2 separate regions of the Homo sapiens genome follow, and region 2 is linked to region 1. The links come from fine-mapping of genetic effects on gene expression. A gene starts in region 1. The other region holds a variant in brackets. All regions are shown on one strand. Distances are from middle to middle. Region 1 holds the start of C16orf82 (chromosome 16 open reading frame 82). Region 2 has its middle 91 kb from the start of C16orf82.

Region 1 (5,376 bases):
GGGCAAAAACCACTGTCTTAGAAAATCTTGGTCAGATGCAGCAGCTCCTACTTGTCATCCCTGCACTTTGGGAGGCCAAGGCAAGGAGGACTACTTGAGGCCAGGCATCTGAGGCCAGCCTGGGCAACACAGCAAGACTCCGTTGCTATAAAAAAAAATTATTTTCAAGTGAAAAAAAAAGAAAATTAAAACATGTTTTTTAGAAGTTCCCTAGGTGGTGATGCACACCTCGGGGTCATTCATTTATTCACTAAATCAACGTCTAGTGAGCATCAGGCAGTGTGCTGGGCCTTGAGGGCAGAGCAGAGAATAAGAAATCAGAATCTCTGCCCTCATTAAGTTTATATTCTGGCTGAGGACCTGGCAATAAATAACCAGTACATAATTCATTCATGTCACAAGGAACATCAATTAGGAAGTGGCATAAAGGATGACAGCAGGGGCCAGGTGCAGTGCCTCACGCCTGTAATCCCAGCACTTCAGGAGGCCGAGGCAAGTTCGAGACCAGCCTGGCCAACATGGTGAAATTCCATCTCTACTAAAAATACAAAGATTATCTGGCTGAGGTGGCACATGCCCATAATCCCAACTACTCAGGAGGCTGAGGCAGGAGAATTGCTTGAACCTGGGAGGCGGAGGTTGCAGTGAGTGGAAATTATGCCATTGCACTCCAGCCTGGGCAACAGAGTGAGACTCTGTCTCAAAAAAAAAAGTGGGAGTGGGGGAGGCCAGGCTGTAATCCCAGCACTTTGGGAGACTGAGGCGGGCGGATCACCTGAGGTCGGGAGTTTGAGACCAGCCTGACCAACATGGAGAAATCGTCTCTACTGAAAATACAAAATTAGCTGGGCGTGGTGGCGCATGCCTGTAATCTCAGCCACTCGGGAGGCTGAGGCAGGGAGGCATGCCATTGCACTCCAGCCTGGGTAACAAGAGTGGAGCTTGCAGTGAGCCGAGATCACTCTGTCTCAAAAAAAAAAGAGGATGCCAGAGGGGAAAAAAGCACCCTGAGGGGTGAAAACAGCCAGTGCCAAGGCCCTGCAGCAGGTAAGAGCATCAAATCATGAAATCATGAGACCATGCTCCAAAGAGCTAAAGAAACCACTAACAGAAATTCTTGAATTTGCAGGAAGGCAAATAAAAAAAGAAACAATTTGAAACTCCTTTCACTTATAACAAAACCAGCTGCAATCAGCTGGAAGCAATATGGCCAACTGGAGTTAGTGCAAGACCAGCTTGCTGATGTCACAGCCTGAATTTCCACTGCATGTTTCACACTCACTCCCTCCAAATTTGCACATGGGACCCATGAGGAGGCATGAAGAGGTAACTGCACATGCCAAAGGTCTTTGCAGACCTCACTTCTCCTTGCACCAATAACCTACTAATCTCAGAATCCACTCCCTAAACCTTTTCTAATAAAACTACTGCCTTAAAGCCAGCACAGGGAGAGAGATTTGAGCTGACTCCTGCCTCCTTCTGAGCCAACTTGCAATAAAAAGCTTTTCTCAGAAACCCAGTTTCATAGTGTTGGGGTCCAGGGCATCCAGCTGTGAGTCCCTTTTGCAATAAGAGAGTGCTCAGCCTGGTCAAGCATCCAAGGTGAGAAAGGGGCAGGGCGTGGTGTGTGATGAAGTTGGGAGAGCCAGACCAGGCCAGGGCCTTGATGATCCGGCCTGCTGTATTCCCTCCTGTCCTCAAAACCACTCAGCAGGCCGGGTGCGGTGGCTTACGCCTATAATCCCAGCACTTTGGGAGGCCGAGGCGAGCAGATAGCTCCAGGTCAGGAGTTGAAGATCATCCTAGGCAACATGGTGAAACCCCATCTCTACTAAAAATACAAAAATTAGCCAGGCATGGTGGCGGGCGCCTGTAATCCCAGCTACTTGTGAGGCTGAGGCAGGAGAATCGCTTGAACCCGGGAGGCAGAGCTTGGAGTGAGCCCAGATCTCACTACTGTACTCCGGCCTGGATGACAGAGTGAGACTCCATCTCAAAAAACAAACAAACAGAAAATAAAAAATAAATAAAAATAAAAAAATGAAACACTCAGCAAGCAGGCAGAGACTTGGGAGAGAAGAAACTCGGCTCATAGGATCTCGGCTGGGACACACGCCTGAGGCCCCTGACCTGATGTCTGGCCACAGACTCCTCAGAAAGGCTCCCGAGAGGGTGACACCCACCCCCTCTGGCCATGAGCCCCTTTCTGCCCCACTCCTACCCTCCAGGCCAGGCCACTGATGTCACTGGTGCCAGGACAGCATTGTTCTCCCTCCCACACCCGCCTTCACCTCACAAGCCCCATCACCATGGGAACTGAGCCAGCCACTCAGAACACAGAGTTTTCAAAGGGCAGCCTTATATACGGAGTCACCTCTCCCCAGAGAGGTCACAGCCAACATTCAGAGGCCTCCCAGGGCCCCCTCTCCCTGGATAAACCACTTCAGCTGCCCCCCATTTTTCTCGAGGGAGAAAAAGGGGAATCCTCTGTCCAGAATGAGCAGGAAGGAGAGCCAAGCCTACAGTCACCCAGCTTAGAGCTCCAGTCCCCTGCGTGGCCACGCCATGCAGGAGTGGCTCAGGAGCCCCTGAAAGTGTCCAGCAGCTACCTCAGTGACACCCAGAGCAGCGAGAGTCATGTTTCCAGCGTGCAGCACCCGAGGCCAGAGGAGGGCAGCCATGCCAGCCTGAGCAGCGGGTACGCAGGGGACAAGGAGGGCAGCGACATCAGCTTGGTGGGCAGCCACCGGAGAGTGCGGCTGAACAGAAGGCTCAACACCCAGGCGGCCAGTAACCAAACCAGCCAGCTGGGCTCCATAGACCCTCCCAGCTCTCTAAAGAGCCGGCTGACTGGCCCCGCCCACAGCACCAAGCAGACTGGAGGGAAAGAGTGAGGCCAGCCTGCCCGGCAGCGGCAGCGGCAGCAGCATCCTGTCCAGCGCCAGCTTCATCAGCTTGGGCAGCAGTGCCCTCACCTACAAGGTGAGCAGCGGGCTGCTGACTTCCACAGCCAGCCTTCCCTCCACCCAGGCCAGCAGCCGTCAGAGCGTCCGGCTGGATGGCAGTGCCCAAAACAGGCAGAGCAGCCACACCAGCGTGCAGGAGGACAAGACGGGCGGCAACGTGAAAACCAGTGAGCAGGTCACCACGGGGGAGCAGCCTGCCCAGGTGTGCATGCCTTTGTGAGAATCCTCTCCAGCAGCCAGAGTCTCCCAGAAAACAACACACAGGCCCAGCAAACACAGGCTGCACCCAGAGTGGATATTCCCAAAACAAGTAGGAAAGGTGTTTTCAAAAGCACACACTGACTGTGTCAACCATCAGTGGGTAATCCCATTTGTAGCAACAAGCATCAGTGGGCAGGCCACATGTAGCAGGAAGGATCTATGCTGAGCACCGCCTATCCTGAGAACACAGTCAGTGAGGAGACTGTCTATACTGAGAACCACTGTTGCTAGGAAGAGCTGTAGTATCAAGATTCACCAATGCTGAGTCCACCTGTGTCAAAACAGCGAAGAGTAATGACATCGACTGTGAACTTCAGTGACAAGCCATCTATAACAAGATCCATCAATGGCAAAACCATCTGTAGTCAGCAGCATCCTGGTGGGACCCCCTGTACCAAAACTCATCAGTGGCGACAGATGTTCTCGATGGCAAACGCTGACGATATTAAGAACTGTCACGAGTTAGAACCTTCCATGATGAAACCATCCTAAATGATGAATGCCATCTGCAACCAACACCAGCCACGATGAGCTCAGAAGAAACAAGCTGCAACCATGGTTGGGACTGTCCATATCAAGAACCATCTGCAGTGAGCGCCATGCGTGGAGAGCCACATCCACATGAAACTTCATCCTGGCCAAGCAGCACCACACTCTGTCCATCATTGTCACTGCCCGCAGAAGCACTAGCAAGACAGCCACGGTGCACACGGAGCACCTTCACGACTCTCAGCTCCCCCAAGGAGTCCAGACTAAGTGACTGTCACCAGAGAAGGATCATCAGGAGCAGCCAGGGATGCCCCCGGCACACAGGGACTAGGTCTAGTGAGAACATTAGAGGGCGGTGTAAATGGATCCCCATGCCTGGGCACCTGTAATCCCAACTACTTGGGAGGCACCATCCCAGAGAGCTCCAAGCGTCCTTTTTTTTTTTTTTTTCCTTTGAGTGCTGTCTCTGGACATCTTCAGCCCAGAATCTTCTCAGGAGCAAAGGCTTCCTGATGCCTCATTCATGTCAAGAAAGGAGGCCAGGAGCCATCCTGTGTTCAGATGGTTGAGACAGTGACTACGATGGCAGGACAATGCCGTGAGAAGCACTTCATGGTGACAGAGCCCAACCCAGCCGGGAACAGCTGCGATGGGGAAGCTCTGGAGCATTTTGTGAGCACCGTCTCGGTGGATGGGAAAGCCGAAGTCTCTGCCCGTCTCTTACTGGAGGCACTAAACCCCCTCCCTGGGTTGACCTCACAGACATTGAAGTGAGTCTGCCCACAAAGGAAAAGAGGCCAGAGACTGTCGTGAAGACATCCACTAGGTACCAGAAGGAAAGCTGAGGGGGCAGCAAAGACAATAAAAGGTGTCTAGAGAGGTCATATGTGTGTGGGTCTGTGTGTGCGTTCCCGGCCGAGCTCACAGGAGGGGTGGGCCACAAACACACTAAAGAACCATGGAGAGAGTTGGGCATGGCTACCAACTCTGCCACTGCTGTGCTGGCCATCTGGGCAAAATAGTTAAACTTTCAGAGCCTCAGTTTCCTCATCTGGGAAATGGGGACAGTAACCCCTATTTCATACATAGGATGGTTATGTGGATTACATGAAAATGTATATCAAGTACCCAGCAAGGGATAAGTACTAATGTAATGTATTTCTTTCCCTTTTCTTTTTTTTTTCCTTTTTATTTTTTAACTTTTAAGTTCAGGGGCACATGTACAGGATGTGCAGGTTTGTTACAGAGGAGAATGTGTGTCATGGGGGTTTGTTATACAGATTATTTTATAACCCAGGCATTAAGTGTAGTATCCATTAGTTATTTTTCCTGATCTTCTCCCTCCTCCCACTCCCCACCCTCCGATAGACCCCAGTGTGTGTTGTTCCCCTCTATGTGTCTATGTGTTCTCATCATTTAGCTCCCACTTCTAAGTGAGAATATGCGGTATTTGGTTTTCTGTTCCTGCCTTAGTTTACTAAGGATAATGGCCTCCACCTCCATCCCTGTCCCTGCAAAGGGCATGATCTCTTTTTTTTATAGCTGCATAATATTCCATGGTGTATCATTTTTCTTGCTTATGGGTAAAATGGGCACAATGGTTTCTGTCTTGCTTCACTCACAGGCACAGAAAGGCTAGTCACTGCTAATAATGGAGAAA
Region 2 (5,376 bases), 92 kb before region 1:
CTGGGTTCAAATTCCAATTTGGTCTAATTATCAGATGTGAGACTTTGGGCACATGACTTAATCTCTTGGGCCTCAGTTTCCTCTTTTGCATGTGAGGATTATGTCTGCACCCTGGTAACTCATCCTTCCTTGACTTGTCTATGACAAAGTCTCTCACAGCACCAGGTAGTTCTTTCCCAAAACGATTGCAATTTTACACACACACACACACAAACACACACACACACAGAGACTGCACATATACATATATATCCAATCCATTTTGGATTATTGCTCAATCATTTGGGATTACTGCCTTAGTTTCCCCATCTGTAAAATGGGGATGACATTTACCAATCACAGTACCTCCCCCATGTGGTGTGGTTCAGAGAATTCCATGAGCAAATACAAGGAGTAAATACAATTCATTTTGTGATTACTTATTTAACCTCTACTTATTCCCCTACTGGATTATGAATTTTATGAGTCTTTGCTCCCCAGCAACCTCCTCAGGGTCTAGCTGTGTGCCTGGCACAGGGTAGATGCATAACAAATACTTGTTAAATGAATGATGAATGAATGAATGAAATAATATGCATATTCTATACTCCTTGTATACTCATTGCATTAATCTATTTATATTCTACCAATGTCCAACTAACCCCGCCATCTGGAACACACTCTTTCCTATGACATCCTTCTGATGAATGCCCCATCTGGCCTTTCTTGAAACACATGATGGAATAGTGGCTACGAAAGTGGACTCTGGATCCAGACATCTCATCCAGTTCCGTCAATCACAAGTTTCATGAGCTTGAGCAAGTGTATGACTCCACTGTGCCTTGGTTTTCCCTTCTGTAAAATGGAGATATTAGCAATAGTGGTACCTTCCCCGTGAGATGTAGTTCAGAGAATTCTATGAGCAAACACAAGTATAGCATTGATCTTCACACCTGGCTGAATGTTGGAAATATTGGAAAGCTTTTGGAAAACACTGATGCCTGAGTTTCATACCCAGGTTTCTGATTTAATTGGTCTGAGGTTAGGCCCAGGCATTGGGATTTTTAAATTCTTCCCAAGTGATATAAATATCCAGGAAAGTTTAAGAATGACTAATACAAAGTGCTTGAAACAGTACCTGGATACTGAGGTCATTCCTCAGGATCCATGGGGAATTGGTTCTAGGACCTCCTGTGGATACCAAAATCTGCGGATGTTCAAGACCTTTATATAAAATGGCATAGTATTAATATTTACATATAAACCTATGCTCATCCTCTCATATATGTTAAGTCATCTCCAGGTTACTTATAATACCTAATACAATGTAGATGGTCTGGAAGTTGTTTTTATACCATATTGTTTAGCAATAAGGACAAAGAAAAAGTCTGTACATGTTCAAGACAGATGCAAGTTTTTTCAAATATTTTCAGTCCACAGTTGGTTGAATTCATGCATGTGGAACCCATGGATACTGGATACCAAGGCTGATTGTACTAAGTAAATATTAGTTCCTTGTCTCTTTTAAGTATTGATGTAAATTTCATTTCCTCCAGGATGTCTTGTCTGCATCCCAAGACCAAGTCGGGTGCCTCTCCCTGAGTTCCTCCATAGCTACGCTCATCACACTGGATTGAGACTGTCCAGTTACTCATCCGTCTTACATACAAGGCCATGAGCTGTGTCCCAATGCATGCATAAAGGTTGTGCATAGGGTAATTCTGAAGAAAATTGGTTGAACAAATTTTCTGCCTCCCTGACTTATCCCAAACAGTGTTGATCCCAGTGGGTCTCAACACTATCTGTGCACCTGACACCCCAACCTCTCCAATATCCAACTGCCTACTCAGCAGCATTGCTTGGCCATCAGCAGACATCTCAAACTTTGTTTTTGGAGACAAGGTCTCACCCTGTCTTCCAGGCTGGAGTACAGTGGTATAATCACAGCTCACTGCAGCCTCAATTTCCCTGGGCTCAGGTGATTCTCCCACTTCTGTCTCCTGAGTAGCTAGGACTACATGTGCATGCCACCACGCCTGGCTAATTTTTGTATTTTTTGTAAAGACAGGGTTTTGCCATATTGCCCAGGCTGGTCTTGAACTTCCGGACTCAAGCAATCCTCCCGCCTCTGCCTCCCAAAGTGTTGGGATCACAGGCATGAGCCACAACACCTGGCCAACATCTCGAACTTTAACTTGGCCAAAGCTGAACTCTTTATTTTC[T/G]TCTCCAAACTAGGTCTCCCATTCTCGCTAACCAACACCTCCACTTTACCAGTTTCTCAGACCAAAAATCTTAGAGTTATCTCTTACTCCTCTTTCTCTCATGCCCATCCATCCATCCATCCAATCCACCAGCAAATCCCATCAGCTCCATCAGCAAAACATATCCAGGATTCTACCATTACTACCTGTGACATTACACTGCGGACCAAGCCACTGTCATCTCTCACCCAGAATGCCCCAGCTCCTGACTCCTATTACTGTTTCCACCCTTGGCCTCCAACAGTCTATGACAGTCCAGCAGCCAGAATAATCCGACTACACAACAGCTCTGCTCAAAACACTCCAATAACTCCCAGTCTCACTCAAATTAAAGTTTGAAATTCAACCACAGCCTAACATTTCCTCCGTGATGAGTTCTGAGCTCTCTCTCTGATCTTAGCTCCTATCACTTTCCCATTCTTGTGGTTTTCTTGCTGCCATTCAAACCCCCTAGGGCCACCCATGTTTGAAGCCTTTGCACAGACTGTTCCTTCGGTCTGTAACCCTATTCCTCAAATATCTGCTTTGCTTCCTTCACTTCCCTTTTGTCTCTGTCTAAATGTTACAAGGACACCCTCTCTTACTGCCCTATCTAAAATAGCCCTCTAACCCCTCACTGCCTGCTCTGCTGTACTTTGGTTTCATAGCATTTATCACCATCTGCCTTGACATTTATTCTTATTTTTTATTGTATTTATTTATTTATTTAGAGACAGAGTCTCACTCTGTTGCCAGGCTGGAGTGCAGTGGCGCGATCTCAGCTCACTGCAACCTCCGCCTCCCGGGTTCAAGTGATTCCCCTACCTCAGCCTCCCGAGTAGCTGGGACTACAGGTGAGTGCGCGCATCACCATACATGGCTAATTTTTTTTTTTTTTTTTTTTTGTATTTTTAGTAGAGATGGGGTTTCGCCATGTTGGCCAGGATGGTCTCGATCTCCTGACCTCGTGATCTGTCTGCCTCGGCCTCCCAAAGTGCTGAGATTACAGGCGTGAGCCACCGCGCCCGGCCTGACATCTATTCTTTATAGTCTGTTTCTGCACACACTACATGCTAAAAGGTAAGCTCTATGAGAATAAGAACATTGTCTATTTGGTCTGCTGCCATGTTCCAAGTGCTGAACGTAATTGGCTGGCACCAGCTAGGTGTTCAATAAACACTGAATGAAGTAATCTCCTTGGAAGCACGGCATTGGCTGGTCAGTTTACGCTGACGGAATGGAAATTCACGCAGTTGGAAGGAGCACCACTTAGGCATTGCCACCTCCTTAGAAATACCACTTGGGGCTGGGCGGGGTGGAGCTCCCAGCACTTTGGGAGGCCGAGGTGGACGGATCACAAGGTCAAGAGATCCAGACCATTCTGGCCAACATGGTGAAACCCCGTCTCCACTAAAAATACAAATTTAGCTGGGCATGGTGGAGCGTGCCTGTAATCCCAGCTACTCAGGAGGCTGAGGCAGGAGAACCACTTGAACCCAGGAGGCAGAGGTTGCAGTGAGCCGAGATCACGCCACTGCACTCCAGCCTAGGGAACAGAGAGAGACTCTGTCTCAAAAAAAATGAAAGAAAGAAATAGCACATAGGCACTAACTCCCAACCTCACTGAGTCATATTTAGCTTCTCAGGAGGGTGGGGAACATTTCTCAGAAGATAAATAGAATCTTTATGAGAAGGAGAAAGGCTTGGCATTTCATGGCTTTTCCAAAATATTTTCAATAGCAATTTGAAGGCTATTTGCTCCTCTGACATTTATCTTCATTTGGCATGGGAAATGGCTGAACGACATGGAGAGGAGGCATCGCTTATGAATGTTGGGTGGTGGCAAAAGAGGCCTCTTACACGAATCTATCACAAAGAGCTGCCATGGCCTCTTGGCTCTGTGAAATCTGCCCCCACCTGCTTTGATTGATTCAGCCAGGATGCCCCCGATAGCTCAATTCATTTGAAGAATAATTATCCACTGTGTTCTAGATGCTGCTCCCTTGTCCCTGGGGAGTTGATGTCGGGAGGTTAGGCTAGTGACAAGTGACAGAGTATGTCTGATCATTGTTCTCACCCTGGGAGGAGTGGCCAGCTGGGGTCAGGCCACGGGGACATGGGCATGTGAATATCGTTGGCATTGTTTGCCTGTGTTACTGATGATGCTTCTCCCTCTGCTGGACTCTGCAGTGCAGACTGCTCTCCCAGTCTGTACCTCCCAAAGTGACATCTTCAAGGGTTGTGCTCAAGTCAGCACCTGGATCACAAGCCCACCTGGGGGACAGCAGGTCGCTGTCACAGGTCTTGGGACAAAAGTTTTGTTTGTCCCTCCAGACTCACTCCATCCTTTCCCACCTGCTTGATGCCCCAGGAGGAGAGCTTCTGTAGTTTACGTCAATGAGCTCCCTCACCTTCTAGCTTCGGGTTGGGTTCAACTGATGTGAGATGCTCACCAGAGATCAGAGGGCAGGAGAAGAGAGGTCAGAGTATTCATTCTCACTGTTAGGCCATAGACTGGTATGGCTGCACTTCTTCAATGGAAACCACAGGTCCACATCGGGTGCTGGGGCTCACGCTTATAATCCCAGCACTTTGGGAGGTCAAGGCGGGTGGATCACTTGAGCTCAGGAGTTGGAGACCAGCCTGGCCAACATGGCAGAACCCTGTCTCTACTAAAAATACAAAAATTAGCCAGGTGTGGTGGTATGCACCTGTAATTCCCAGCTACTCAGGAGACTGAGGCAGGAGAATTGCTTTAACCCAGGAGGTGGAGGTTGCATTGAGCTGAGATCACACCACTGCACTCCAGCCTGGGCAACAGAGTAAGACTCTGTCAAAAAAAAAAAAAAAGAAAGAAAGAAAAGAAAGAAAAGAAAGAAAGAAAGAAAGAAAGAAAGAAAGAAAGAAAGAAAGAAAGAAAGAAAGAAAGAAAGAAAGAAGGAAAGGGAAAGGGAACCACAAGTCCTCTTGGATGACTCTCCATTGCCTGCAGCATCCTTAGGTTTTGCTAAACCTTCCCTCCCAGTCTCAGGCCTACAGGTAGTTAATAGCTCACCATCGTTGCTAGTCCCAGAAAACATCATCTTCTTGTGTGGGACTCCCTTAACCCCACGCAGGCCCTTGTACATAGTCCCTTCAAGAAACTGTCCTCAATCGT

What was found. PIP is the estimated chance that this variant, and not a neighbour inherited with it, causes the effect.
Region 2: its variant is the best candidate, but not a certain one, in a credible set for the expression of C16orf82 in tibial nerve (GTEx, PIP 0.63).

The regions. Positions count from the first base shown.
Region 1 is chr16:27,064,567-27,069,942 of GRCh38, forward strand. It overlaps C16orf82 (chromosome 16 open reading frame 82), which reads left to right and starts at 2,361. Exons shown (of 1, transcript NM_001145545.2): 1 at 2,361-4,600. The coding sequence starts at 2,430. The coding sequence ends at 2,894.
Region 2 is chr16:26,972,758-26,978,133 of GRCh38, forward strand. No RefSeq gene overlaps it. Among named protein-coding and RNA genes, the nearest start is that of C16orf82, 91 kb to the right of the region's middle. The variant T/G (reference allele first, on the strand shown) is at 2,202.